2 separate regions of the Homo sapiens genome follow, and region 1 is linked to region 2. Evidence: fine-mapped expression QTL. A gene starts in region 2. The other region holds a variant in brackets. All regions are shown on one strand. Distances are between the middles of the regions.

Region 1 (12,554 bases), 26 kb after region 2:
CCTGGCCTCACTGAGTGAATACGACCAGTGCCTGGAGGAGAACAACCAGGAGGTGCGCCACCGCCTCCCTCGCCCTGCCCACTTGTTGGCCCAGGGACCCTCACCTGAGCAGGAAGCTCTGGTGCAGAAAGGGAGGGATCCCTGCTCTTGAACGGGCCTGTGTGTGCCCAGCATGGCTATGAACTTGACCCTTCAGCCTTTTGTGGTCAGATTGCAGCAACCCAAGACACAGACCTACAGCATTTGTTTGGTCAGGACCCCAGACACACACACACACACACACACACACACACACACACACACTACAGTGCACACACGCACATACACAATGCATGCACACAAACACGCACAGACACGTGCATAATACATGCACATACACACGTGCACACACGGGACACATGTACACACGCAGTGCACATGCACAACACATGCACACGAACACACATGCACCACACACATGCACACTTGCATGCACTCACGTGCACAATACACGCATATGTACACATGCGCACACACATGAACACACACATGCACACACACAGTACACACATGCACACGCACACACAGGCACACACACGCACACACAGGCACACAGGCACACACATGCGTGCACACACACATGCACGCACACGCACAGGCTGGAGTGCAGTGGCGCGATCTCGGCTCACTGGAAACTCCGCCTCCCGGGTTCACACCATTCTCCTGCCTCAGCCTCCGGAGTAGGTGGGATTACAGGCACCCGCCACCACGCTCGGCTAATTTTTTTTTTGTATTCTTAGAAGAGAGGGGGTTTCACCATGTTAGCCAGGATGGTCTCAATCTCCTGACCTCGTGATCCGCCCGCCTCGGCCTCCCAAAGTGCTGGGATTACAGGCGTGAGCCACTGTGCCCAGCCAATAGCCTCTTTTAATAAGTACACCAGTCGTCTAGGATCAGGGCCCACCCTACTCCAGTACGACCTCATCTGGGTTAATTCCTCGTGTGATGGCCCTGTTTCCAAAGAAGGTCACAAACTGAGGTTCTAGGGGGTTAGGTCTTGAACGTATGAATTTTGGGGAAATATGATGTACCCCATAACACAAGGCATTTGAGACCTTATTGTACTTTTTTTTTTGAGATGGAGTCTCGCTTTTGTCGCCCAGGTTAGAGTGCAGTGGCGCGATCTCAGCTCACTGCAACCTCCGCCTCCCGGGTTCAAGCGATTTTCCTGCCTCAGCCTCCCGAGTAGCTGGGTTTACAGGCACCTGCCATCATGCCCGGCTAATTTTTTGTATTTTTAGTAGAAACGGGGTTTCACCATGTTAGCCAGGCTGGTCTCCAACTCCTGGCCTCAGGTGATCTGCCCGCCTTGGCCTCCCAAAGTGCTAGGATTACAGCCGTGAGCTGCCGCGCCCGGCCAGGTCTCCCTCTTCTTATGAGGACAGCAGTCACGGACTTGAGGGCCACCGTATTCTAGTATTGCCTCACCTTAACGACCTCTTCAAAGACCCTATCTCCAGGCCAGGTGCAGTGGTTCATGCCTATAACCCCAGCACGCTGGGAGGCCAGGAGTTCAAGAATCTCTCTCCAGATAAGGTCACACTCTGAAGCTCTGGGGGGACATGAATTTCGGGAGGACACACTTCCAACCAGCACAGGCACAAAACCATGTCAGGCACACCCAGGCAGCTGTCCATATGGAAACACGGGCACACCCGCCTCAGCCCCAGCCAGGCAGATAGGGGTGAGCCCATGCCCCTGGAGCCAACAGCCCCGTCTCCGCGATGGGAGGGTTTCCTGTCCCACCTGGCTGGTTGAAGCACTAACCTGCTTCTGCCCCCAACACAGAACCGCATGAAGGAGAGCCTCGCATTGTTTGGGACTATCCTGGAACTACCCTGGTTCAAAAGCACATCCGTCATCCTCTTTCTCAACAAAACCGACATCCTGGAGGAGAAAATCCCCACCTCCCACCTGGCTACCTATTTCCCCAGTTTCCAGGGTAAGTAATTCTAGAACTTTCTATACCCTTCAACTCCCAAAAGCAGCTCCGAAGAGAGATGCTAATCCAGACTCTACTTCAGCCTGGAGTCACCGGAACTTTCACATAGGATCAGACCCGCGTTCTAGACTCAGCTCCATCCACTGCCCGACCTCATTGAATCTGTTTTCCCTTCTGTGGAATGGAATAAAATAGCAGAGGCCCTTGGAACTGAGTAAAGTGAGGAATTCTAAAAACACGTAGCATATCACGTACACCTTAAACATTTTATTTATTTATTTATTTTTGAGACAGAGTCTTGCTCTGTCACCAGGCTGGAGTGCAGTGGCGTGATCTCGGCTCACTGCAACCTTTCCCTCCAGAGTTCAAGCGATTCTCCTACCTCAGCCTCCCTAGTAGCTGGAACTACAGGTGCGCGCCACCACGCCCAGCTAATTTTTGTGTTTTTAGTACGAAAAGACGGGATTTCACCATGTTGACCAGGATAGTCTCGATCACTTGACCTCCTGATCCACCCGCCTCAGCCTCCCAAAGTGCTAGGATTATAGACAGGAGCCACCATGCCCGGCCAAACATTTTATTTTATGCTTGTTGGCCAACATTTGGGGTTTGAGCCAAGATCCTTCAAGCATGGGTTTGCTATGTAGAGGTCACTGTTGTAAAGCACTTCTGGAAAGATTGTCTACTATTTCCAGAATCTGCCTAGGTTTTAAGAATGATTCTTTTTCTTTTCTTTCTTTCTTCTATTTTTTCTTTTTGAGACAGAGTCTCACTCTGTCACCCAGGCTGGAGTACAGTGGTGCGATCTTGGCTCATGGCAACCTCCAACTCCCCGGTTCAAGTGATTCTCCTGCCTTAGCCTCCCAAGTAGCTGTGATTACAGGCACGTGCCACCAAGCCTGGCTAATTTTTAGTAGTTTCCTGTCCTATTTTTAGTAGAGATGGGGTTTCACCATGTTGGTCAGGCTGGTCTCGAACTGACCTCAAGTGATCCACCTACCTCAGCCTCCCAAAGTGCTGGGATTACGGGCGTGAGCCACCGCATCTGGCCATAACGTTTCTTTTTCTAATCTTTCATAGTGATCTCATCTATCCCTAATTGGATAGCAATTTCTTTTTCTTTAATCCATTTTTTCTTTAATTTTTTTTTGTTTGTTTTTTGAGACGGAGTCTCGCTCTGCTGCCCAGGCTGGAGTGCAGTGGCGCAATCTCAGCTCACTGCAAGCTCTGCCTCCTGGGTTCACACCATTCTGCTGCCTCAGCCTCCCGAGTAGCTGGGATTACAGGTGCCCGCCAGAACGTCTGGCTAGTTTTTTGTATTTTTGGTCGAGATGGGGTTTCATCATGTTACCCAGGTTGGTCTCAATCTCCTGACCTCATGATCCACCTGTCTCGGCCTCCCAAAGTGCTGGGATTACAGGCGTGAGCCATCGTGCCCAGTCTATTTTTTCTTTAATTTCTTTTCTTTTTTTTTTTTTTTTTGAGATGGAGTTTTGCTCTTTTTGCCCAGGCTGGAGTGCAATGGCACAATCTCGGCTCACCGCAACCTCCGCCTCCCGGGTTCAAGGGATTCTCCTGCCTCAGCCTCCCGAGTAGCTGGGATTGCAGGCATGAGCCACCACCCCGGCTAATTTTGTGTTTTTAGTAGAGACGGGGTTTCTCCATGTTGGTCAGGCTGGACTTGAACTCCCGACCTCAGGTGATCCACCCGCCTCGGCCTCAAAGTGCTGGGATTACAGGCGTGAGCCACCACACCTGGCCTTTCTCTTTAATTTTTAAAGCAGAGCTTTGAACAATGTTTCCAAAGCACACAGCTTAGTTTTGTAATACAATGACCTTCTTTCATGCGGCACTTGTAGCTACAGATTTGCATAACGTTTCTTTTAATTACATATGAATCAAGACACGTACAATGGGCAAAAACAGGTTTGGGAACAAACTCTCAGTCCATCCAGAGGGTGAAAGGGCCACAGGGCAACTACAGAGAAACACCATCTAGTGTTGGGCACCACTTAGTATATTTTACAAAGGGGAGGCAGAGTTGTGGTTAATCCAGGGACCAACGTGGGGAAGGTACATATTCACTAGCACTTTCCCCAGAACACCACTGTGAGGATAAAGTGTGGTGGCGGGTGTCCTGCTTAGCTACTGCCGAGTAACAAACCATCCCCAAACTTAGTGACTTAAACTGGTCATTTTCCTTTGCTTATGATTTTGTGGGTCAGGAATTTGGGAAAGGTTGAGCTGGGTAAGTTCATCTCTGATCCATGTGACATCAGCTGGGCTCTATGGGATTGGAGATAAACTTCCAAGATGGCTTCTTCCCCCATATGTCTGGTGCCTTGGTGCTCTTGGCACTCTTGGCCTCTCTCTCTGTGTCTCTCCCTGCCTCCCTCTCCCATCTCATCTCTCTCTCCTCCCCTTTCTCCTAGTCTGTCTCTCCTTTTCCACCTCCCCTGTTCTCTCTGTCTCCATCTGGGGCCTCATGATCCACAGCCTCTTCACATGGTTTGAGCTTACTCACAATATGGCTGCCTCAGGGTAGACAGACTTCAGCCCAGGTGGAAGCTGCTTCTCATGATAGCCTCAGAAATGTCAGACGTTACTCTGCCACATTCTATTTGTCAAGCACATCACTCATATCAGCCCGGATTCAAAAGAAAGAGACTCCATCTCTTGAAGGCAGCATGACACATGCATACAGGGAGGGAAGGAAGTGACGGCAGCCATCTTGGAGATAACTTGCCTTCATGTCCTGGGGATGCCGTAACAAAGTACCACAAACTGGGTGGCTTAAAACAACAGGAAACAACAGAAGTCCAAAGTTAAGGTATTGGCAAGGTTGGTTCCTTTTGGAGGCTCTAAGGGAAAATCCATTCCATGCTTCTCTCTCAGCTTCTGGTGGTGGCCTACAATCCTTAGCTTGTAGACATATCACTGCAATCTCTGCCTCCATGTTCACATGGCTGTCTTCTCACCATGCCTTTATGTGTCCTCTCCTGTTGTTATAAGGCCACCAGTCATTGGATTTAGGGCCCATACTTTGGTATGACCACTTTTTTTTTTTTTTTTTTTTTTTGAGACAAGGTCTTGCTCTGTTGCCCAGGCTAGAGTCCAGTGGTGTGATCACAGTTCACTGCAGCCTCAACCTCCTGGGCACAGGTGATCCTCCCACCTCAGCCTCTTGAGTTGCTGGGACTACAGGCGCACACCACCACACCTGGGTAATTTTTGTATATTTCTGTAGAGACAGGGTTTCGCCATGTTGCCCAGGCTGATCTGGAACTCCTGGGCCCAACCACACATCTGTCATCCACCTGCCTTGGCCTTCCAAAGTGCTAGGATTACAGGCGTGAGCCCTCATGCCTGGCCATGACCTAATTTAACTTAACTAATTACATCTGCAAATATCCGATTTCTAAAAGTCATATTCTGAAGTTCCAGGTGGACATGAATTTTGGGGGACACTGTTCACCTCAATATACAAGCAACCATAGTAGATGAGTCCTTAGTACATGCTTGACACCAGGTCCACAATCAGTAAACATAAACTTTGGTGAAGTCACCAGGTTTTGATCCCTGGTCTTGTCATGTCTCAGAGCCCATGAGGCCAATTTTAGCCAATTATACCCACAAGATTCAGGGTCTGGGAGATAGACGTCAAGTTGTTCCAGGATGGTGGCCTGGATAGCCCCTCTTCCTTGCCAAGCAGCCCTGGGAATCAGCTCATAGTTTAGAGAATTTGGGAACAGGATAAGGTAGATATTTTTTTCATTCAGGTCAAAGGGAACCACCCATGACTCATCCTTGTCTCCCAGCACAAGTGACTGGTGCACTCTTTGCTGACTCCCAGCCCTACCCTCCACTGTGCTAAATAATATTTGTGATAATAATAAGAAACCACACTTTGGGAGGCTGAGGCGCGCAGATCGCTTTAGGTCAGGAGTTTGAGACCAGCCTGGCCAACATGGCAAAGCCCCATCTCTGTTAAAAATACAAAAATTAGCTGGGTGTGGTGGCGGGGGCCTGTCATCCCAGTTACTCGGGAGGCTGAGGCAGGAGAATCGCTTGAACCCAGGAGGTGGAGGTTGCAGTGAGCTGAGATCATGCCACTTCACTCCAACCTGGGTGACAGAGTGAGACTCTGTCTCAAAATAATAATAATAATAATAATGATAATAATAATAAAATTGATAACAGCAGCTAACACATCTACCGCACTGGTGGAAGCACTCTACAAAGCTTCTTTAATCTTCATGTTAAAACCCTATGCAGGGCTGGGCACAGTGGCTCACGCCTGTAATCCCAGCGCTTTGGGGGGGTCAAGGCGGGCTGATCATTTGAGGTCAGGAGTTCGAGACCAGCCTGGCCAACATGGCAAAACCCCATCTCTACTAAAAATACAAAAATTACCTGGGCATGGTGGCAGGCGCCTGTAATCCCAGCTACTGCCAAGATTGCACCATTGCACTCCAGCCTGGGCGACAGAGCGAGGCCCCATCTCAAGAAAAAAAAAAAGAGGACTCTCTTCCCCTCGTTTGGCCTTGATGCCGCCATCTTCACAGTCCTGGGATATTTGTCTATGCGATTCCAGTCTTCCAACTGCACTGGCTGTAAGCGAGGCCAAGAGAGTGTCTCTCTTTAACACAGTTCTGCCCGAAGTCCCAGAGCTGGGTCTCATTGGTCCATTTCAGGTCACATGACTCGTGTGAGACAATCTCCTGTGTTCCCATTGGCTGGGCCGGAGTCGTGTGACCAGCTATGACTACAAAAGATGGAGTCAACGCACAGAAAAATGACAGGCGCGATCCCTGGGTCCCTTCAGTGCTGGTTACAGGGAAGAGGGTCTCCAGAGGCCCCCTGGGTCCAAAGAGGGAGGGTCCTCACCCCCTTCCCACACTGTTTCCCCAGGCCCTAAGCAGGATGCTGAGGCAGCCAAGAGGTTCATCCTGGACATGTACACGAGGATGTACACCGGGTGCGTGGACGGCCCCGAGGGCAGCAAGAAGGGCGCACGATCCCGACGCCTCTTCAGCCACTACACATGTGCCACAGACACACAGAACATCCGCAAGGTCTTCAAGGACGTGCGGGACTCGGTGCTCGCCCGCTACCTGGACGAGATCAACCTGCTGTGACCCAGGCCCCACCTGGGGCAGGCGGCACCGGCGGGCGGGTGGGAGGTGGGAGTGGCTGCAGGGACCCCTAGTGTCCCTGGTCTATCTCTCCAGCCTCGGCCCACACGCAAGGGAGTCGGGGGACGGACGGCCCGCTGCTGGCCGCTCTCTTCTCTGCCTCTCACCAGGACAGCCGCCCCCCAGGGTACTCCTGCCCTTGCTTGACTCAGTTTCCCTCCTTTGAAAGGGAAGGAGCAAAACGGCCATTTGGGATGCCAGGGTGGATGAAAAGGTGAAGAAATCAGGGGATTGAGGACTTGGGTGGGTGGGCATCTCTCAGGAGCCCCATCTCCGGGCGTGTCACCTCCTGGGCAGGGTTCTGGGACCCTCTGTGGGTGACGCACACCCTGGGATGGGGCTAGTAGAGCCTTCAGGCGCCTTCGGGCGTGGACTCTGGCG[C/T]ACTCTAGTGGACAGGAGAAGGAACGCCTTCCAGGAACCTGTGGACTAGGGGTGCAGGGACTTCCCTTTGCAAGGGGTAACAGACCGCTGGAAAACACTGTCACTTTCAGAGCTCGGTGGCTCACAGCGTGTCCTGCCCCGGTTTGCGGACGAGAGAAATCGCGGCCCACAAGCATCCCCCCATCCCTTGCAGGCTGGGGGCTGGGCATGCTGCATCTTAACCTTTTGTATTTATTCCCTCACCTTCTGCAGGGCTCCGTGCGGGCTGAAATTAAAGATTTCTTAGAGGCTGCGTCGCCAGCGTCCTGTTTATCCCCTCTGCATTCCTTTCTCGGCTTACGTGTCCCGGGGGCAGTGCTTACAGTGCGGGGAGCAACGTGGAGTAGGAAGGAAAAAAGTTATACTTCTTGTCTACCCACCTGTCCTGGCCATGGTACCCAGAACTGTGGAGGCTGTGAGTCCCGCAAGCCGGGACGTGGAGTCCAACCTCCCTCCCAGGCTGGGGGGGACATTGAAGCAGACTCCTCCGTGGCTACTGACCTGAAATTCCAGTAGCAGCCCCCACCCAGCTTTGAGAAGGCCTCTTACTATCCTCAGGGCAGTGTTCTGGGGTGCAAGCCGTAGCACCCCACTTTACAGGTGAGGAAACCGGGGCGCAGAGAAGTGGAGTAATTTGACTAAGCTCACACACCTGGAATTGACAGAGGCAGGAGCCTGTTCCTACGTTGAACACATTTGTGGTTTTTTATTTGTTTGTTTTTTGAGACAATCTCACTTGGTTGCCCAGGCTGGAGTGCAGTGGTGCGATCTCGGTTCACTGCAGCCTCTGCCTCCTGGGTTCAAGTGATTCTCATGCCTCAGCCTCTGCAGTAGCTGAGATTACAGGCACCCGCCACCACACCTGGCTACTTTTTTTTTTTTTGATGGAGTCCCGCTCTGTGGCCCAGGCTGGAGTGCAGTGGCGCAATCTCGTCTCACTGCAACCTCCACCTCCCAGGTTCAAGTGATTCTCCTGCCTCAGCCTCCTGAGTAGCTTGGACTACAGTTGTGTGCCATCACACCTGGCCATATTTTTGTATTTTTAGTAGAGACAGGGTTTCACCATGTTGGCCAAACTGGTCTCAAACTCCTGACCTCAAGTGATCCGCCTCCCTCGACCTCCCAAAGTGCTGGGATTACAGGCATGAGCCACCACACCTGGCCTAATTTTTCTTCTTATAAAAACACTAGTCACACTGGATCAGGGTCCAGCCTGTCATCCCCATCTTAACTTGATTACATCGGCAAAGACCGTATTTCTAAATAAGGTCCCATTCACAGATACCGGGGGTTATGACTTCATCATATCTTTGTAGGGGAGCCACATTTGAACCTATAAAAGGTATTTTGTAATACAAAAAGGAGCCGGGCGTGGTGGTGCATGCTTGCAATCCCAGCTAATTGGGAGGCTGAAGCATGAGAGTTGCTTGAACCCGGGAGGCGGAGGTTGCGGTGAGCCAAGATCCTGCCACTGCACTCTAGCCTGAGCGACAGAGTGAGACCTTGTCTCAAATAATAAATAAATAAATACATAAATAAATAAATAAATATAAAAGTATGTTATAGAAACCCTCTCCACTGAGTTTGGTCTGACATTTTGCTGCTGGTCAGACTGGGGTGATGGGTTTCAGGGAGGAAGACCTCAGTGGTGACAGCCCTTCTCACCACATCCTATCTTTCTGTTTTTTTTTTGAGACGGAGTCTCACTCTGTCACCCAGGCTGGAAGTGCAGTGGTGTGATCTCGGCTCACTGCAAGCTCCGCCTCCCAGGTTCACACCATTCTCCTGCCTCAGCCTCCCGAGTAGCTGGGATTACAGGCGCCCGCCACCACGCCTGGCTAATTTTTTGTATTTTTAGTAGAGACGGGCTTTCACCGTGTTAGCCAGGATGGTCTCAATCTCCTGACCTTGTGATCCGCCCGCCTCGGCCTCCCGAAGTGCTGGGATTACAGGTGTGAGCCACCGCGCTCTGCCTCTTGTTGTTGTTTTGTAAGAATTTTAGACTCACAGAAAAGTTGCAGAAGTTGTACACAGTTCCCAAATGCCCTCCACCCAGCTTCCTCTTACCTCTTACGTAACCCTAGTACAACCCAGGAAATTCACATCAGCGAGCGTCCTATGAACGAACCTGTGTGTAGACCTTACTAGAATGTGGCGGGTTCTCGCTCCCGTCCTCCTTTCCTGGACCAGGATCCAATCCCGGATCCCACATCGCCATGAGCTGCCTCCCTCTCCTCATTCTGGGGCAGTGCCTCAGTTTCCTTTGTGACACGTCGGAGGAGTTTTGCTTGGTTGTTTCTTGAGCCGTTCCTCAGGTTGGGTTGGTGTGAGGTTTGCTGGTGACAGAAAGGGATGTCAGAGCCACTCAGGGCATCACCTGACTGGGTTCATCATGACAAAGTGGCTCATCCCTGGCGATCATACGTTGCGGATGTCTTTTCACCATTGGTTGGTCGGAGTCAGGACCCAAACAAAGCCCGTGCGTGGCGCTTGGGTGCTGTGTCTCTTAAGTCTCTTTCCTCTTTTTTTTTTTTTGAGACGGAGTCTTGCTCTGTCACCCAGGCTGGAGTGCAGTGATGCGATCTCGGCTCACTACAAGCTCTGCCTCCCGGGTTCATGCCATTCTCCTGCCTCAGCCTCCTGAGTAGCTGGGACTACAAGTACCCGCCACCACGCCCGGGTAATTTTTTGTATTTTTTAGTAGAGACGGGGTTTCACTGTATTAGCCAGGATGGTCGCGATCTCCTGAACTCGTGATCCAACCGCCTTGGCCTCCCAGAGTGCTGGAATTACAGGCGTCAGCCACCGCGCCCAGCCTCCTCTTTTTTTTTTTTTTTTTTGAGACAGAGTTTTACTCTTGTCACCCAGGCTGGAGTGCAGTGGTGTGATCTCAGCTCACTGCAACCTGCACCTCCTGGGTTCAAGCGATTCTCTTGCCTCAGCCTCCTGAGTAGCTGAGATTACAGGCATGCGCTACCACACCTAGGTAATTTTTATATTTTTAGTAGAGACGGAGTTTTGCCATGTTGGCCAGGCTGGTATCGAACTCCTGACCTCAGGTGATCCTCCCGCCTCGACCTCCCAAAGTGCTGGGATTACAGGCGTGAGCCACTGTGCCCAGCCATGACCCAGTGGGTCTTAAGAGTTTTTTGACTGGGCACAGCGAGATGCTTTTAACTCATCCTTTACTTTGTCAGCTTCAGATCTGCACTGGATCGTTTCTCCAAGGAGCCCTCTTTCCTTTGAATGGGAGATGATATTTAGAGACCACAATCTGAGCACCAAGTGAGGAAACACATCTTGTCTTTTTTTTTATTATTATACTTTAAGTTCTAGGGTACATGTGCACAACTGTGCTGGTTTATTACATAGGTATACATGTGCTGTGTTGGTTTACTGCACCCATTAACTCGTCATTTACATTAGGTATTTCTCCTAATGCTATCCCTCCCCCCTCCCCTCACCCCACGACAGGCCCCGGTGTGTGATGTTCCCCACCCTGTGTCCACGTGTTCTCATTGTTCAGTTCCCACCTATGAGTGAGAACATGCGGTGTTTGGTTTGCTGTCCTTGTGATGGTTTGCTCAGAATGATGGTTTCCAGCTTCATCCATGTCACTACAAAGGACATGAACTCATCCTTTTTTATGGCTGCATAGTATTCTGTGGTGTATATGTGCCATATTTTCTTTTTCTTTTTTTTTGAGACGGAGTCTCACTCTGTCACCCAGGCTGGAGTGCAGTGGTGCAATCTGGGCTCACTGCAAGCTCCGCCTCCCGGATTCATGCCATTCTCCTGCCTCAGCCTCCTGAGTAGCTGGGATTACAGGCGCCCACCAGCAAGCCCGGCTAATTTTTTGTATTTTTAGTAGAGACGGGGTTTCACCGTGTCAGCCAGGATGGTCTCGATCTCCTGACCTTGTGATCTGCCCGCCTCAGCCTCCCAAAGTGCTGGGATTACAGGCGTGAGCCATCACGCCCGGCCTGTGCCACATTTTCTTAATCCAGTCTATCATTGATGGACATTTGGGTTGGTTCCAAGTCTTTGCGGAAACACATCTTTTGTTCGCTTATTTTTAGTGCAAAAATATTTGAAACCTACAGAAGTTACAAAACCATTACAATGTATTCCCCTGTATTTTTCATCCAGGTCAGGAGCCGGCAAACTGCTACCCACAGGCCAAATACTACTTCAATTGCTTTTGTAAAGTTTTATTGAAACACGGTCATGTCCATTCATGTACCTGTGTCTACGCAGGCTGTTCCTGCATCCATGGAATTGAGTAACTGCCACTGATACTGTCTGGCCCCAAAAGCCAAAAATATTTACTATTTGGCCTTTTTGTTTTGTTTTGTTTGTTTTTTACTCCCCTTAAAGACAAGGTCTTGCTCCGTCACCCAGGCTGGTGTGCAGTGGTGCAACCTCAGCTCACTGCTGCCTCCAACTCCTGGGCTGAAGGGTTCCTCCTGCCTCAGCCTCCCCGGGGATTCCAGGCATAAGCCCCTGTGTCCGGCCAGGTGTGAGTTTTCGAGTGGACATGCTTGCATTCCTCTTGAGTGTGACCCTAGCGACAGAATTGCTGGGTCATGTGCTGAGGTCATCCATCCATTTCTAACCCAGGGTTGGCCGGCAGCAGCCCCTCCGAGCTGGCTCCTGTGTTCTTTGCCAGGTCCTCCTCCCTCTGTGATCACGCCCTCCCTCTCTGGCACACTGAGATGTTCCAGGCTCATCTCCTGCCCTACTCTTGGAATCAACCCTTCCTCCCAGGTTCCCTGGATCCTTTCAGCAAGGGGCTGTAGGGGGAGGGAGGTGATCTTTAGAAGCCACGATCTGGGCACTAGGTGCTCCTTGCTCTGGGATTGTCTCAGTGGAAAGTTAGGACAGGGTTTTTTTATGTTTTTTGCATAAATCATGAGATCCTGAATTCACACTGATATTTGCAATCCTTTCTTTTTTTT
Region 2 (16,156 bases):
TTGGGTATTTACCTACAGAAAGCCACACATATAATCACAAAAGACATGTACCAAATGCCCATAGCTGCCCTATTCATTACAGCCCCAAACTAAAATTTAACCAAATGCCCATCAACAGTAGAATGGATGAATAGATTGTAGTTTATTTATCCAGAGGAATAGTCTATGACAATCAGGATTAATGAACCACAACCATGTACACAATATGAGTTAATCACACAAACATCACGTGGAATGATAGAAGCCAGATGTACCTGAACTCATTTTATGTAATTCTGTGTGCATAAAGTTCAAAACTGGCAAAAATTCACCATGATTTTGAGGATTTTTTTTTTTTTTTTTTTTTTGAGATGGAGTCTTGCTCTGTTGCTCAGGCTGGAGTGCAATGGTGCAATCTCGGCTTACTGCAACCTCTGCCTCCCAGGTTCAAGTGATTCTCCTGTCTCAGCCTCCTGAGTAGCTGGAATTACAGGCACCTGCCACCACATCTGGCTAATTTTTGTATTTTAGTAGTGACAGGGTTTCTCCATGTTGTCCAGGCTGGTCTTGAACTCCTGACCTCAGGTGATCCACCTGCCTCAGCTTCCCAAATTTTTGGGATTACAGCTGTGAGCCACTGCGCCTGGCCTGAAAGGTCTAATATTTTAAGCTTCTACTCCCAAGAAATTAGAAAGAGAAGAGCAAACTAAACACAAACTAAAGAGAAAATAATAGAATAGAAATCAATGGAATAAAAAATAGAAAAACAGTATAGAAAAATCAATAAAGCCATAAGCTGGTTCTTTGAAAAAAATTAATGAAATTGATAAACCTTTAGTCTAGATTCACCCTCCAGAGAGAAAAAGAAATTACCAGCAACAGGCACAAAGGAGGGGATATCATTACTCACCCTAAAGAAATTTAAAGGATAATAAGGGAATACTACAAATAAGTGTATGCACATAAATTTGACAACTTAAAGGAAATGGACCAATTTCTCGAGAGACACAAGCTACCAAAACTCACTCAGGAAGAAACAGAAAACCTGAACAGTCCTATACGTATTAAAGAAACAGAATTTGAAGTTAAAGTCTTCTAAAGAATAAAACATTTGGGAGGCTAAGGCGGGTGGATCACGAGGTCAGGAGATCAAGACCATTCCGGCTAACGCGGTGAAACCTCGTCTCTACTAAAAATACGAAAAAATTAGCTGGGCATGGTGGTGGGTGCCTGTAGTCCCAGCTATTTGGGAGGTTGATATAGGAGAATGGCGTGAACCCGGGAGGCAGAGCTTGCAGTGAGCCAAGATCATGCCACTGCACTCCAGCCTGGGTGACAGAGCGAGACTCTGTCTCAAACAACAACAACAATAAAAAATGAAAAATAAAATAAAACTTTAGGCCCAGATGGTTTTAGTGGTGAATCCTATCAAACATTTAAAGAAAAAATAACATCAAATTCTTCACAATCTGTTTCAGAAAATAGAAGAGGATGGAATACTTCCCAACTCATTTTAAGAGGCCAGTATTATCCTGATACCAAAATTAAAGACAGTACAGGGAAATTACAGATCAGTATACTCAAAAACATAGATACTAAAATCCTTAACAAAATATTAGCAAGTGAAATAATGAAATCCAGTGATATACAGAAAGAAAACCACCTCACCACCAGGTGGCATTTATCCCAGGAATACAAGACAAGCTCAACATTGGAAAATCAGTCAATATAACTTGCCATATTAACAGACGAAAGAAAAACTACATGATCATATCAATAGATAAAGAAAATACATTTGATACAATTCAACTTTCATTCATGATAAAAATTCTAAGCAAATTAGGAGTAGAAAGGAACTTCCTCAACCTGATAAAGGGCATCTGTAACAAACCACAGCTAAACAACAACAACAAAAATACTATTGGCCAGGTGTGGTGTCTCATGCCTGTAATCCCAGCACTTTGGGAGGCTGAGGTGGGTGGATCACCTGAGGTCAAGAGTTCAAGACCAGCCTGGCCAACATGGTGAAACCCCCGTCTCTACTAAAACTACAAAAATTAGCTGGGCGTGGTGGCACATGCCTGTAATTCCAGCTACTCGGGAGGCTGAGGCAGGAGAATCACTTGAACATGGAAGGGGGAGGTTGCAATGAGCCAAGATCACGCCATTACACTCTAGCCTGGGCAACAAGAGCAAAACGCTGTCTCAAAAAAAAAAAAAAAGAAAAGAAAAGAAAAAAAAGAAAAAAATATGTACACAAATGTATATAGCAGCTCTGTTCATGATCACCTCAAACTGGAAGCAACCAAATGCCCCTCACGGTTGGATAAAGGGGAATGCATCCACACAGGGAAATACCACTGGACCATCCAAAGCAACGAACTTCTGATACACTCGGCAACACAGAGGAATCGCAAATGCTAACTGAAAGAAGCCAGTCTCAAAAGCTACTTTCTGGACCAGGTGCGGTGGCTCACGCCTGTAATCCCAACGTTTTGAGAGGCTGAGCTGGGAGGCCAGGAGCTCCTGAGCAGCCTAGGCAACACAGAGAAACCCATCTCTACAAAAATAAAAAAATTAGGGCCGGGCGCGGTGGCATCCGCCTGTAATCCCAGCATTTTGGGAGGCTGAGATAGGTGGATCACTTGAGGCCAGGAGTTCAAGACCAGCCTGGCCAACAGGGCGGAAACTTTGTCTCTACTAAAAATACAAAAATTAGGCGGGCACGGCGGCTCGCACCTGTAATCCCAGCTACTCGGGAGGCTGAGGCAGAAGAATTGCTTGAACCTGGGAGGTAGAGCTTGCAGTGAGCTGAGATCGTGCCACTGCACTCTAACCTGGGCGACAGAGTGAGACTCTGTCTCAAAAAAAAAAAAAAAAAAAAACATTAGATGGTGGTGGTGCGCAGTACTCGGAAGGCTAAGGTGGGAAGATCGCTTGAACCCAGGAGGTCAAGGCTGCAGTAAGCCATGATTGCACCACTGCACTCCAGCCTAGGCGAGAGAGAAGGGCCTTGTCTCAAAAAATAAAATAAAAAACATAGCAACAGCTATTTCCCTCGGAGCGAGCGGGGGCGGCGGCCTGTGCAGCAACGGCCAGGATCAAGGCCCAAGACCTTCTCGGGAAGAAGGAGGAGGAGCTGCTGAAACAGCTGGACGACCTAAAGGTGGAGCTGTCCCAGCTGCGCGTCGCCAAAGTGACGGGCGGCGCGGCCTCCAAGCTCCCTAAGATCCGGGCGCGGTGGCTCACGCCTGTAATCCCAGCACTCTAGGGAGGCCGAGGCGGGCGGATCACGAGGTCAGGAGATCGATACCATCCTGGCTAACACAGCGAAACCCCGTCTCTACTAAAAATACAAAAAAATTAGCCGGGCGTGGTGGCGGGCGGCTGTAATCCCAGCTACTCACTCGGGAGGCTGAGGCAGGAGGATGGGGTGAACCCGGGAGGCGGAGCTTGCAGAGAGCCGAGATCTCGCCATTGCGCTTCTGCCTGGGCGACAGAGGGAGACTCTGTCTCAAAAAAAAAAAAAAAAAAAAAAAAAAAAAAAGATCCGAGTCGTCCGCAAATCCATTGCCCGTGTTCTCACGGTTATTAACCAGACTCAGAAAGAAAACCTCGGGAAATTCTACAAGGGCAAGAAGTACAAGCACCTGCACCTGCGGCCTAAGAAGACACGCGCCGTGCGCCGCCCGCTCAGCAAGCACGAGGAGAACCTGACGATCAAGAAGCAGCAGCAGAGCGAGCAGCTGTCCCCAGTGCGGAAGTGCGCGGTCAAGGCCCGAGTGGCGCGTTGTCAATAAAGCACAGCTGGCTGAGAAAAAAAAAAACAAAAAAAAAAACACCAAAACAAACAAACAAACAAAAAACACAGCCACAAAGAGCCAATCCACGGTCAGGAGGGAGTTGTTCCGGTGATGGAACTACATTCTGTATCCTGTTTATAGCAGTAATTTACACGAATCTCTACAGCTGTTAAAACTCATAGAAACCAGGCCGGGCGCGGTGGCTCACGCCTGTAATCCCAGCACTTTGGGAGGCCGAGGCGGGCGGATCACGACGTCAGGAGATCGAGACCAGTCTGGACAACATGGTGAAACCCCGTCTCTACTAAAATACAAAAAAAATTAGCCCGGCGTGGTGGTGGGCACCTGTAGTCCCAGCTATTCGGGAGGCTGAGGCAGCAGAATGGCGTGAACCCGGGAGGCTCAGCTTGCAGTGAGCCGAGATCGTGCCACTGCACTCCAGCCTGGGTGACAGAGACAGACTCCGTCTCAATAAATAAATAAATAAATAAATAAATAAATAAACTCATAGAACCATACACCAAAGAAAGTAAATACAATGCTACATAAATTTAGACAATTAAAAACAAGATCTTTTTTTGGGGGGGACAGACCCTTGCTCTGTCAACCCAGGCTGGAGTGCAGTGGGTCAATCATAGCTCACTGCAGCCTCAACCTCTCTGGCCTAAGCAATCCTCCCACCTTAGCCTCTGGAGTACCTGGGACCACAGGCATGAGCCACCACCCCCGGCTAATTTATTTTATTTTATTTTTTAGAAATGGGGTCTCACTGGGAAGGTGGAGGTTGCAGTGAGCTGAGACCGAGCCATTGCACTCCAGCCTGGGCAACAATAACAAAACACCGTCTCAAAAAAAAAAAAAAAAAAAAAAAAGAAAGAAAGAAAGAAAAAAGAAAAAAAGAGATAGAGTCTCACTATGTTGCCCAGGCTGGTCTTGAACTCCTGGGGTCAAGCAATCCTCCCACTTCAGCCTCCCAAAGTGCTGAGATTATAGGCATGAGCCAACATGCCCAGCTGAAATAGATCTTATTAGCAAAAAATACCCCCCAAACCCGGAAATAAATATTAATACCACAGAAGTCAGAATGATAGTTACTGCTGGGAAGGTAGAGATTACTATGAGGAAAACACTAGGGGTCTTTGTGGGGCTAAGGTCTTTTTTTTTTTTTTTTTGAGACAGAGTCTTGCTTGTCACCCAGGCTGGAGTGCAGTGGCACGATCTCAGCTCACTGCAACCTCCACCTCCCAGGCTCAAGCAATACTCCTCCCCCGGCCTCCCGAGTAGCTGGGATTACAGGTGTGCACCATCACACCTGGCTAACTTTTCTATTTTTAGTAGAGACGGGGTTTCACCATGTTGTCCAGGCTGGTCTTGAACTCCTGACCTCAGGTGATCTGCCCACCTTGGCCTCCCAAAGTGCTGGGATGACAGGCGTGAGACACCGCGCCCGGCCTGAAAATGTCCTTAGTCTTGGCCTCAGTGGATTCTGTGGATACCGGCTTCACAACAATTTATTAGGTAATACATTCAGGTTTTATGTGTTTTCTGAAAGAAATATTTTCTACACACACAAGCTCACCCTGGTGTTCCCAGCTGAGCTAATAATACACGACAAATGCTCAGCATGTGGCAAGGAAGTAGCTCAGCCCGTTTAGGGAACCGCAAGGGAGGTTTGTTCAGCAGCTGGAGAAGTGGGCAGAGCCTGGGCCCTGGATCCAGGGAGCCGGCTCATTAATTCTGAAGCCAGCGGGAGCCACAGAGGGTCTGCCACCCTGGTCCAGGCTGTGAAGATGGCGGGTGCTGGTATCCTGTCCAAAAATGCCGCAGGGAGATGCTAGGAGAGTGGCCCCCTGGGCTCACCCTGTGGGGCCTGTGGCTCAGCCTCGTCTCCCAGTTTTGCTGGTCATTTCTGTTTCAACCATCCTGGAAGATCTGCACGGCCATGACCTATTTCTGCGTTTCTTTGCCTGTCCTGGGTGGGACTGCCCCTCGTTGCTGCTATCCGGTTGGGGGCGGGAAGGTGGGTGGCTGGGTGGGCAGATGGCACCTGCCAGCCCCAGTGACCAGATGGGGGCCCCTATCGTACTTCCCATCTGTCATTCGTTATGAATCAACAGTGGAGAAAACCACACGTTTGTGCTGAGCTGGTGAAGCTGCGTCAACGGCTGTCACCGAGCCCTGGTGTCTGGGAGGAGGTGGGGACGGTGGCTGCCAATGGCTGTGTGGCCCTGGGCACGTAATTCGCCCTCTCTGTGCCTTGCCCTATCTGTAAAGGGACCAGAGGCCCCCGAAGTACAAGAATTACGTGTATCTCTTGGGGAGGAGAGTTTTGATCCAGAACTTTCTAGAATTTTCTACAGCCTGTCAATGGGGGTGGGGAATCTTCACCCAAACACTCTGGCTCTGAGTACCTAGGAAGCAGCAACGTTTCTACCAAGCTGCCAGCCACCAGCCCACCCCTAGGGCCCTGAAGTCCCAGAGGGATCAGGTCAGGGCGGCCTCATGGCACTCATTGGGAAGATCTCCTTGACCAGTGAGGTCCACTCCCAAAGTCCCTCTTACACCCGATCTGCCTGTCTGACTTCTGATCCTGAATATCACTTGTCTGTGCGACCTTTGTTGATCCATTTAGAGCAATGACCTTGAACCTTCCCCAACAACATCTCTGCTTAATTTTTCTGGCAGAATTTTTCACCATCCAACGGGCTCAGGTGTATTAAAAAATATATATATTTTACACGTGTGTGTATATATATACACACATATATATTTTTATGTATAATATACATATATGTATATTAAAATGTATACTTTTATGTGTGTATATATGTATGTGTATATATGTATGTGTGTCTATATATTGTGTATATATATGTATGTGTATATATGTATGTGTATATACATATATGTATGTGTGTCTATATATTGTGTATATATATGTATGTGTATATATATGTATGTGTGTGTGTGTATATATATACATAGAGAGAGAGGGAGAGTTTTGTTTTGTTTGTTTCTGGAGACAGGGTTTCACTATGTTGCCCAGGCTGGAGAGCAGTGTTATGATCTCGGCTCACTGCAGCCTCCATCTTCGGGGTTCAAGTGATTCCCTTGCCTCAGCCTCCCAAGTAGCTGGGACTACTGGTGCGTGCCAACATGCCCAACTAATTTTTGTATTAGTAGAGATGGAGTTTCTCCATGTTGGCCAGGCTGGTCTCAAACTCCTGACTTCAAGTGATCCTCCTGCCTCGGCCTCCCAAAGTACTTTGATTACAGATGTGAGCTCCCGCACTCACCTGGCCAAATTTTTTATTCTTTTATTTTTTATTTTTTTTGAGATGGAGTCTCACTTCGTCGCCAGGCTGGAGTGCAGTGGCACGATCTCAGCTCACTGCCACCTCTGCCTCCCGGGTTCAAGCGATTCTCTTGCCTCAGCCTCCCAAGTAGGTGGGACTACAGGCGTGCACCACCACGCCCGGCTAATTTTTGTATTTTTAGTAGAGACGGGGTTTCGCCGTGTTGGCCAGGCTGGTCTCGATTTCTTGACTTTGTGATCTGCCCGCCTTGGCCTCCCAAAGTATAGGGATTACATGCGTGAGCCACCAGGCCCAGCCTAAAATTTATTTTATTATCTGTTCTTTAACTAGAACCTTAGGTAAGGAGGTCTGGGATCTGTGTCTCTTGGCTACCGTGCCTGGCACACAGTTGGCGCTCCATGAATGCACGCACAATGAAGGGATGGCCCTGCCTGGAATCTGCCTGGTAGGCGTCTAGACTCTGGGGCCCCGCAGGTGAGGGATAGGCTCCCGGCTCTGCCTTGTGCCAGCCCCACCGGTCACTCCCCTGCTCTATGCCTCAACCTCCTCATCAGTCAAACAGGGATGACAGTAGTAACTATACAGGGTGATGTGAGTGTAAAACCAGCTAATGTGAGCCAAAACCCGGCTAATTTTTGTATCTTTAGTAGAGACAGGGTTTCGCCATGTTGGCCAGGCTGGTTTCGAACTCCTGACCTCAGGCAAGCTGCCCACCTCTGCAGGGTGGATCACCTGAGGTCAGGGCAGAGTCGCTGGAAACAGTCCATGACACCTGGCCTGAGCTGTTTCTTAAAAATATATCAGAAGGGCCGAGCGTGGTGGTTTATGCCTGCAATCCCAGCACTTTGGGAGGCCGAGGCGGGTGGATCACCTGAGGTCAGGAGTTTGAGACCAGCCTGGCCAACGTGGTGGAACCCTTTCTCTACTAAAAATCCAAAGTTAGCCCGGCGTGGTGGTGGATGCCTGTAATCCCAGCTACTCGAGAGGCTGAGGCAGGAGAATTGCTTGAACCTGGGAGGCAGATGTTGCAGAGTCAAGATCCTGCCACTGCACTCCAGCCTGGGCAATAAGAGTGAAACTCTGTCTCAAAAAAAAAAAAAAAAATATATATATATATATATATATATATATATATATATATATATATATATACACATATATATATATACACACACATATATATATGATATATATATAATGTATCAGCAGTAGCACGGGTCTGACGGTTCCTGATTGGCTCCGAGGAGGGGGACAGCTCCGGGTGAAGCCTGAGGAGAATCCGCCCCTTCTCCAGAAGGAGGAAGAAGGGCCCTGCTGGTCACACAGGACCCAGTCTGCGGTGGGGGTTTTCCCGCCACCGCCCCGCCCTCCCTGGGGCCCCCACCTCACCCTCTCCTGGCACCCTTCACCGTCAACCTGTCGGGCCGGGTCTGAGCAGGTCTGGAGGTGGGCGGGGAGCCCTGGCCTCCCCACCTCCTCCCGTCCCCACCCTGTTCCCAGCACTCAAGCCTTGCCACCGCCGAGCCGGGCTTCCTGGGTGTTTCAGGCAAGGAAGTCTAGGTCCCTGGGGGGTGACCCCCAAGGAAAAGGCAGCCTCCCTGCGCACCCGGTTGCCCGGAGCCCTCTCCAGGGCCGGCTGGGCTGGGGGTTGCCCTGGCCAGCAGGGGCCCGGGGGCGATGCCACCCGGTGCCGACTGAGGCCACCGCACCATGGCCCGCTCGCTGACCTGGCGCTGCTGCCCCTGGTGCCTGACGGAGGATGAGAAGGCCGCCGCCCGGGTGGACCAGGAGATCAACAGGATCCTCTTGGAGCAGAAGAAGCAGGACCGCGGGGAGCTGAAGCTGCTGCTTTTGGGTGAGTCCAGGGTCGGTGGGCGGTGGGTGGTGGGCAGTGGGCGGTGGCCAGCCGGCAGGGGTGTCGGGGCAAGGAGGCGGATCAGGCTAGGTCAGACATTGGCATCGTGGAGCCGTCGCCTCCTCCCAGGGAATGGGGAGCCTGGAACCCATTTTCCAGATGAGAAAGACTGAGGTTCAGAGAAGCCAAGTTCCTTGTCCAACGTGCGACCAGCGGCCAGGTGCCCAGGCCTGTCCACTGTGTGGGGCATATACAATAGCAGACGTGGCTCTACCGGGCCCCTGCCGGGCAGGCCCAGCACGCCCTACCTGTCTGTGTCATGGCGAGGGAATGATGAGCTCAGGTGTGCAACCCGTTCTGGCCAGCCCACCCGTAAGGGAGGGGCCGGCTCCAGCCTCTCCTTCACCAGGACGCTCCCTCTCGCCTTTACCTCCCTGCCATGGCTGGAGAGGGCTTGTCTAGGGCTCCTTTGGGGGCTAGAAAGGATGGATTGATTGGTTCATTGGTTCATTCATTCATTATTCATTCATTTAAGATTTATTGGGTAGCTCCCAGGAACGAGGCAGCCAAACAGGGGAAGATATTTCTGTCTTCCTGGATCTCATTTCCTGTGAAGGAGCCAAGACATTTAGTCTGTAAACTCATAAGCAGATAAAATAATTCTGGCAACAAGAATTATCTAGGAGAAAACAAAACAGGGTGATGGCTTCCATGCGGAGGCTTCAGATGGGGGAGTCGACGTCAGTAACGGTTCAAGATTCTGAACTCTGGCTGGGTGCAGTGGCTCAAGCCTGTGATTTCAGCACTTTGGGAGGCCCAGGCGGGTGGGATCACTTGAGGTCAGGAGTTCAAGACACAGCCAGGCCAACATGGTGAAGCCCCGTCTCTACTAAAATACCAAAAATTTGCCAGGCATGGTGGCTCATGCCTGTAATCCCAGCACTTTGGGAGGCCGAGGTGGGTGGATCACAAGGTCGGGAGATCGAGACCAGCCTGACCAACACGGTGAAACCCCATCTCTACCAAAATACCAAAAATTAGCCAGATGTGGTGGTGCGTGCCTGTAGTCCCTGCTACTCGGGAGGCTGAGGCAGGGGAATTGCATGAAACCAGGAGGTGGAGACTGCAGTGAGCTGAGATCATGCCACTGCACTCCAGACTGGCGACAGAGTGAGACGCCATCTCAAACAAATAAACAAACAAACAAAACCAAAAATTAGCTGGGCATGGTGGCACACAGCTATAATCCCAGCTACTCGGGAGGCTGAGGCATGAGAATCGCTTGAACCCAGGAGGCAGAGGTTGCAGTGAGCTGAGATCGGGCCACTGCACTCCAGCCTGGATGACAGAGCAAGACTCATTGTCAATAAATAAATAAATATAAATAAAATAAATAAATAAATCATGCCTGTAATCCCAGCACTTTGGGACGCCAAGGCGGGCAGATCACTTGAGGCCAGGAGTTCGAAATCAGCCTGGTCAACGTGGCGAAACCCCGTCTCTACTCAAAATACAAAAAAATTAGCCGGGTGTGGTGGCATGTGCCTGTAATCCCAGCTACTGGGGAGGCTGAGGCAGGAGAATCGCTTGAAACCAGGAGGTGGAGGCTGCAGTGAGCCAGGATTGCACTATTGCACCCCAGCCTGGGCAACAAGAACAAAACTCCGTCTCAAAAAAAAAAAAATTCTGATCTCTGAAACCTCGGGGTCTTCTCATTCCCGTAGCTTGTTTCCCCAATTACCTTTCCCTGATTATGGCCCCGTTGGCCTAAGCCCGGGATGCTAGCCTGGGAGGGTCTTCTGGGATCCCCGAGCTCTGGGTTGGGGGCTGGAGAAGGTCTCAAGTCTTCTGGACTCGCGTTTGTCTGCCCCGGGCAAAGAGCTTGATCATCCCGTGATGGTTGCTATCGTCCTTTCCTCGTTCAGTGGGAAGAGGCCGCCCGAGAGGAAAGAGAGAGAACATCGAGTGGGATGGTGGGGACCCCCAGGAACTGCACCTTCACTGGGGGCCCTTTCTTTCTTTTTTCTTTTCTTATTTTTATTTTTATTTTTTTGAGACGGAGTCTTGCTCTGTCACCCAGGCTGGGGTGCAGTGGTGCGATCTCAACTCACTGCAACCTCCGCCTCCCGGGTTCAAGCAATTCTCCTGTCTCAGCCTCTTGAGTAGCTGGGATTATAGGCACGCGCCACCACGCCCAGTTAATTTTTTTTTTTTTTGTATTTTTAGTAGAGATGGGGTTCCACCATGTTGGCCAGGCTGGTCTCGAACTCCTGACCTGGTGATCAACCCGCCTTGGCCTCCCGAAGTGTTGGGATTACAGGCGTGAGCCACCGCGCCCAGCCTCTTTTTTTTTTTTTTTCTTTTTTTTTAGATTGAGTCTTGCTCTGTCCCCCAGGTTGGAGTGCAGTGGTGAGATCTCAGCTCACTGCAACCTCCGCCTCCTGGGTTCAAGTGATTCTCCTGCCTCAGTCTCCTGAGCAGCTGGGACTACTGGTGCGCACTACCACACCTGGCTAATTTTTGTATTTTTAGTAGAGATGGGGTTTCACCATGTTGGCCAGGCTGGTCTCGAACCCCTGACCTCAGGTGATCCTACCACCTTGGCCTCCCAAAGTGTGGGGATTACAGGCGTGAGCCACTGCACCCAGTCAAGGGCCCTTTCAACTCTAGCCTTGATCCCTCTTACTGAACGAGATAAAAGAATATCTCAGCAGGGCATAGTGGTTCATTCCTGTAATCTTAGCACTTTGGGAGGCCTAGGTGGGAGGATTGCTTGAGCTTAGGAGTTTCAGACCAGCCTGGGCAACTTAGCAAGACCCAGTCTCTAAAAAAAATAAATAAATAAAATAATTAGCCAGGCATGGTGGTGCGCAACTGTAGTTCCAACTACTTGGGAGGCTGAGGTGAGAGGATCACTTGAGCCTGGGAGGTTGAGGCTGCAGTGAGCTATGATCATGCCACTGCACTCCAGCCTGGGTGACAGAGCAAAGCTGACTCTGTCTCAAAAAAAAAAAAAAAAAAATGCCGGGTGCAGTGGCTCATGCCTGTAATCCCAGCACTTTGGGAGGCCGAGGTGGGCAGATCATGAGGTCAGGAGGTTGAGAACATCCTGGCTAACACGATGAAACCCCGTCTCTACTAAAAATATAAAAAATCAGGGCTGGGTGCGGTGGCTCACGCCTGCAATCACAGCACTTTGGGGGGCCGAGGAGGGTGGATCACGAGGTCAGGAGATGGAGACCATCCTGGCTAATGTGGTGAAACCCCATCTCTACTAAAAATACAAAAATTAGCCAGGCGTGGTGGTGCGCACCTGTAGTCCCAGCTACTTGGGAGGGTGAGGCAGGAGAATTGCTCTAACTTGGAGGCAGAGGTTGCAGTGAGCCAAGATCACACCACTGAACTCCAGCCTAGGCAATAAGAGTGAAACTCCATCTCAAAAAAAAAAAATCTATCTATCTATCTATCTATCTATCTATCTATCTATCTATATTTGACATATTAATGTGTCATATTATGTCACATTATGACGTATCATATCGATATGTCTTATTATTTTAAATAAATAGGGCTACTTAGGCTATCTACTTCTTCTTGTGTGGGTTTTGATCATTTGTGTCTTTCAAATAATTTGTCCATTTTGCCTGTGTTATCAAATTTATTGGCATAACATTTATAACGTTCCCTTGTTCTCCTGCTACTGTCTGTAGGATCTGCAGTGATGTCCTCTCTTTTGCTCTTGGTATCGATCATTTCTGCCTTTGCTCATTTTTTTCTTGATCTATCAAGCTAGGGGTTTATCACTTTTAGTGCTCTTTCCTCGAATACCTCAAGGTCATTTATCCCTGACCTTTGCCTGGCTGGCCCTTTCACTCCATGTAGGTCTCAACCCAAGTGTCGCCTCCTCAGAGAAGTCTTCCCTGACTACCCTAGCTATAAAGACAGTCCTATCTTCTCCTTCCCCTTACTCTGTTTGATTTTTCTTCCTGGCCCTCACTATTTGTTCACTTGTTTATTGTTTATCTCTCCAGCTATACAGCAAGCAACAAAAGGGTAGGGACCACATCTGTCTTCTTCATCCCTGTGTCTCCAGCATCTAGCACAGGTGTACAATGAGCCTGCCATATAGTAGATGCTCAAGAAATGCTGAATGAATGAATGAATGAATGAATGAATCATTTTTGGGGAGAACTTCCCCCAGACACTGTATCATATCTTCCTGGAGCTGGGAAAGTCCCTTCCACATACCACTCTGGGCACTACTCAGCCAGCCTCAAAGCAGGAAGCCCCTTCTACTGATGGAGGGCAGGGGATGACATCCATGTCCCCAGGCACTGATGTAGCACTGTGGACTGTGGTTTAAACCACCTCATCCCTGGAGACAGGTCTGAGGGCAACCTCCAGACCTCTGTCCCTTCTTGGAAACAGGAATTGAATCCAAAAGCTGTTTTTTTTTTACCTGGAGGTGGCTGATCCTTTTGAGGAAGATGGCAAAAAGGACCAGGGTGGGGGTGGGTCTGTCCCTGACATGAAGCAACCCTCATATTGGGGAAGGGGGAGAGTCAGAATGAAGCCGTGAGCCGGGTATGGTGGCACATACCTGTAGTCCCAGTTACTCGGGAGGCTAAGGCAGGAGGATTGCTTGAGCCCAGGAGTTCAAGACCAGCCTGGACAACATTGCGAGACCCAGTCTCTAAACAAAAACAAAAAAAGAAAAGAAAAGAAAGTGAACAACAACAAAAACAGGAAAATAAAGCTGTGAAAGGGACCAGTTATGTCCTTAGCACTTTAAACATTTTATTTTTTATTTTTATTTTTGAGACAGAGTCTTACTCTATCACCCCGGTTGGAGTGCAGTGGTGCGATCTCGGCTCACGGCAACCTTTGCCTCCTGGGTTCAAGCAATCCTCTTGCCTCAGCTTCCTGAGTAGCTGGGACTACAAGTGTGCACCATCATGCCCAGCTAATTTTTGTATTTTTAGTAGAGACGGGGTTTCACCATGTTAGCCAGGCTGGTCTCGAACTCCTGACCTCAGGTGATCCATCTGCCTTGGCCTCCCCAAAGTGACGAGATTAGAGATGTGAGCCATTGTGCCCGGCCTGTTCTTAGCACTTTGAGGCAGGCACTCCTAGTTTCCCCCAAAGGATAAACTGAGGCTCAGAGAGGCAGAGCGACTTGCCCAAGGTCACACAGCTGAGACTCGCACCTAGAATTCTGGTTCCAAAGTCCATGCTCCTGACTGCCCTGTTCGCCTGCCTTGGGGGACAGAAACACCACAGAACCCCAGTGCCAGATGGGGAAAATGAGGCCCAAGGAGGCAGCAGGATTGATTGGGGGTCAGCAGCTAGTTTGAGCCAGAGCGGGACTGAGAGGCCGAGCCTCCTGCCCCTGCGGCTGCCTGGCCTGGCTCCCCACTTCCCCAGCAGCTGCGTTTCCTGTGAGGGCCTGGTGCTGGACTCTGTGCACATAGCTGGCTCCAGTTGCCTTGTGATGACTGGGGCTTGGCACGGTTAACCCAGTTCCTTCCTGGCATCTGCCGGTTCCACTTCCTCCTGTCCTCCTCCGTGCCCAGGAGGAAGCAGGAACTTCCCGTCTGGGCCGCATGGCCTTTGGGGGTATCCTAAAACAGATCACTCCCACCATTTCTATCCAGGAGCTGGGGGATGTCTGGGGGTCGGGGGGCAATGGAGAGGTCCCAGAATCCTTTGTGGCTTCAGGACAGCAATGGATTGCAAAGAGGGGGTTCTCACGCAGCTCTTCAGGCTTCGGGTGATGACCCATCCCTGAGTCATCAAATCTGTGTCGCGGGTGGCAACAGGATTATCATTTATTTCCTATAACAAAGCAGAAGAGGAAAAAAAAATCAGTGCATCACAAAATAAAGCCAACTGTTGCTTGCCAAGACTTATGTTTGTTCTCTGCACTTTGGGGCAAACTAAGATCTGAGAGTTGGAAGACAACTGGGGGACAGGAGCCCAAAAGGTCCAGTCCTGGCTGGGCGCGGTGGCTCAGGCCTGTCATCCCAGCACTTTGGGAGGCTGAGGAGGGGTGGATCACTTGAGGCCAGGAGTTCAAGACCAGTCTGGCCAACATGGTGAAACCTCGTCTCTACTAAAAACACAAAAATTAGCCGGGTGTGGTGGTGCACGCCTCTAATCCCAGCTGCCTGGGAGGCTGAGGCAGGAGAATCGCTTGAACCTGGGAGGAGGAGGTTGCGGTGTGCTGAGATCACACCATTGCACTCCAGTCTGTGTGACAGAGCCAGACTCTATATCAAAAAATAAAAATAAAAACAAAAAGTAAAAAAAAGGAAGAAGAAGATCTGAGGGTTGGAAGGCAATTGGGGGACAGGAGCTCAAAAAGTCCAGTCATCGGCAGTTGGGCTCAATGCCACACCCCAAGGAGCTGTCGAGCCTCCCAGACTCTGTAAAAACATTGCTTTAACAGACGTGTTAATGACACCTACCCCAGCTCGACTGGCCGTGTCCCATTTTGTTGGTGAAGGACTCACACGACCCCAAGTTTACTCCCCTGGGGTTCCACTTGCTGTGTGACCCAAATTAAGTCACTAAACCTCTCTGGTCCTCTGTGTCTCATCTGCAAATGGGAAAATCATAGAATCTGTGAGGATTAACTGGGGATCCGTAGAGTCTCTGGGCTCGGGGTTGGGAAGACGGTAAGATTTAAATCATGCTAGCTGTGATTTTTATTATGATTGTTATAATCATTCAGGCAGGGTAAAGGAACCTCCAGGTATAATAATTTAGAAACCCATAAGCTCAAGGTGGCTCATGCCTGTAATCCCAGTACTTTGGGAGGCCAAGGCAAGTGGATCCCTTGAGGCCAGGAGTTCGAGACCAGCCTGGCCAAAATGGCAAAACCCTGTCTCTACTAAAAATACAAAAATTAGCCGGACACGGTGGTGCACACCTGTAATGACAGCTAGTCTGGAGGTTGAGGCAGGAGAATCGCTTGAAACCCATGAGGTGGAGGTTGCAGTGAGCCAATATCAAGCCACTGCACTCTAGCCTGGGTGACAGAGTGAGACCCTGTCTCAAAAATAATAATAATAATAAAAAATAAAAGCCCATAGGCTCTAGACTCAAACAGAACTGAGTTTGAATCCCAGTCTGCCACTCACCAGGACCATTGAAGGAATTGTGCGACCCACAGCAATTCCCTCAACGGCCCCGAGACTGAG

The links.
Region 1: its variant is fine-mapped to the expression of GNA15 in whole blood (TOPMed, PIP above 0.99). The same link has a PIP of 0.9 or more in blood mononuclear cells.

What each region holds. Positions count from the first base shown.
Region 1 is chr19:3,155,901-3,168,454 of GRCh38, forward strand. It overlaps GNA15 (G protein subunit alpha 15), which reads left to right. Exons shown (of 7, transcript NM_002068.4): 5 at 1-52; 6 at 1,828-1,981; 7 at 6,893-7,849. The coding sequence ends at 7,119. Among named protein-coding and RNA genes, the nearest start is that of GNA15-DT, 7.0 kb to the left of the region's middle. RefSeq lists enhancers at 6,551-6,845, 6,649-7,510, 7,511-8,371. The variant C/T (reference allele first, on the strand shown) is at 7,558.
Region 2 is chr19:3,127,642-3,143,797 of GRCh38, forward strand. It overlaps GNA15 (G protein subunit alpha 15), which reads left to right and starts at 8,392. Exons shown (of 7, transcript NM_002068.4): 1 at 8,392-8,954. The coding sequence starts at 8,810. It overlaps GNA15-DT (GNA15 divergent transcript), which reads right to left. Exons shown (of 4, transcript NR_110670.1): 3 at 15,422-15,552; 4 at 13,935-14,789. It also overlaps the pseudogene RPL35P10. RefSeq lists an enhancer at 13,905-14,405.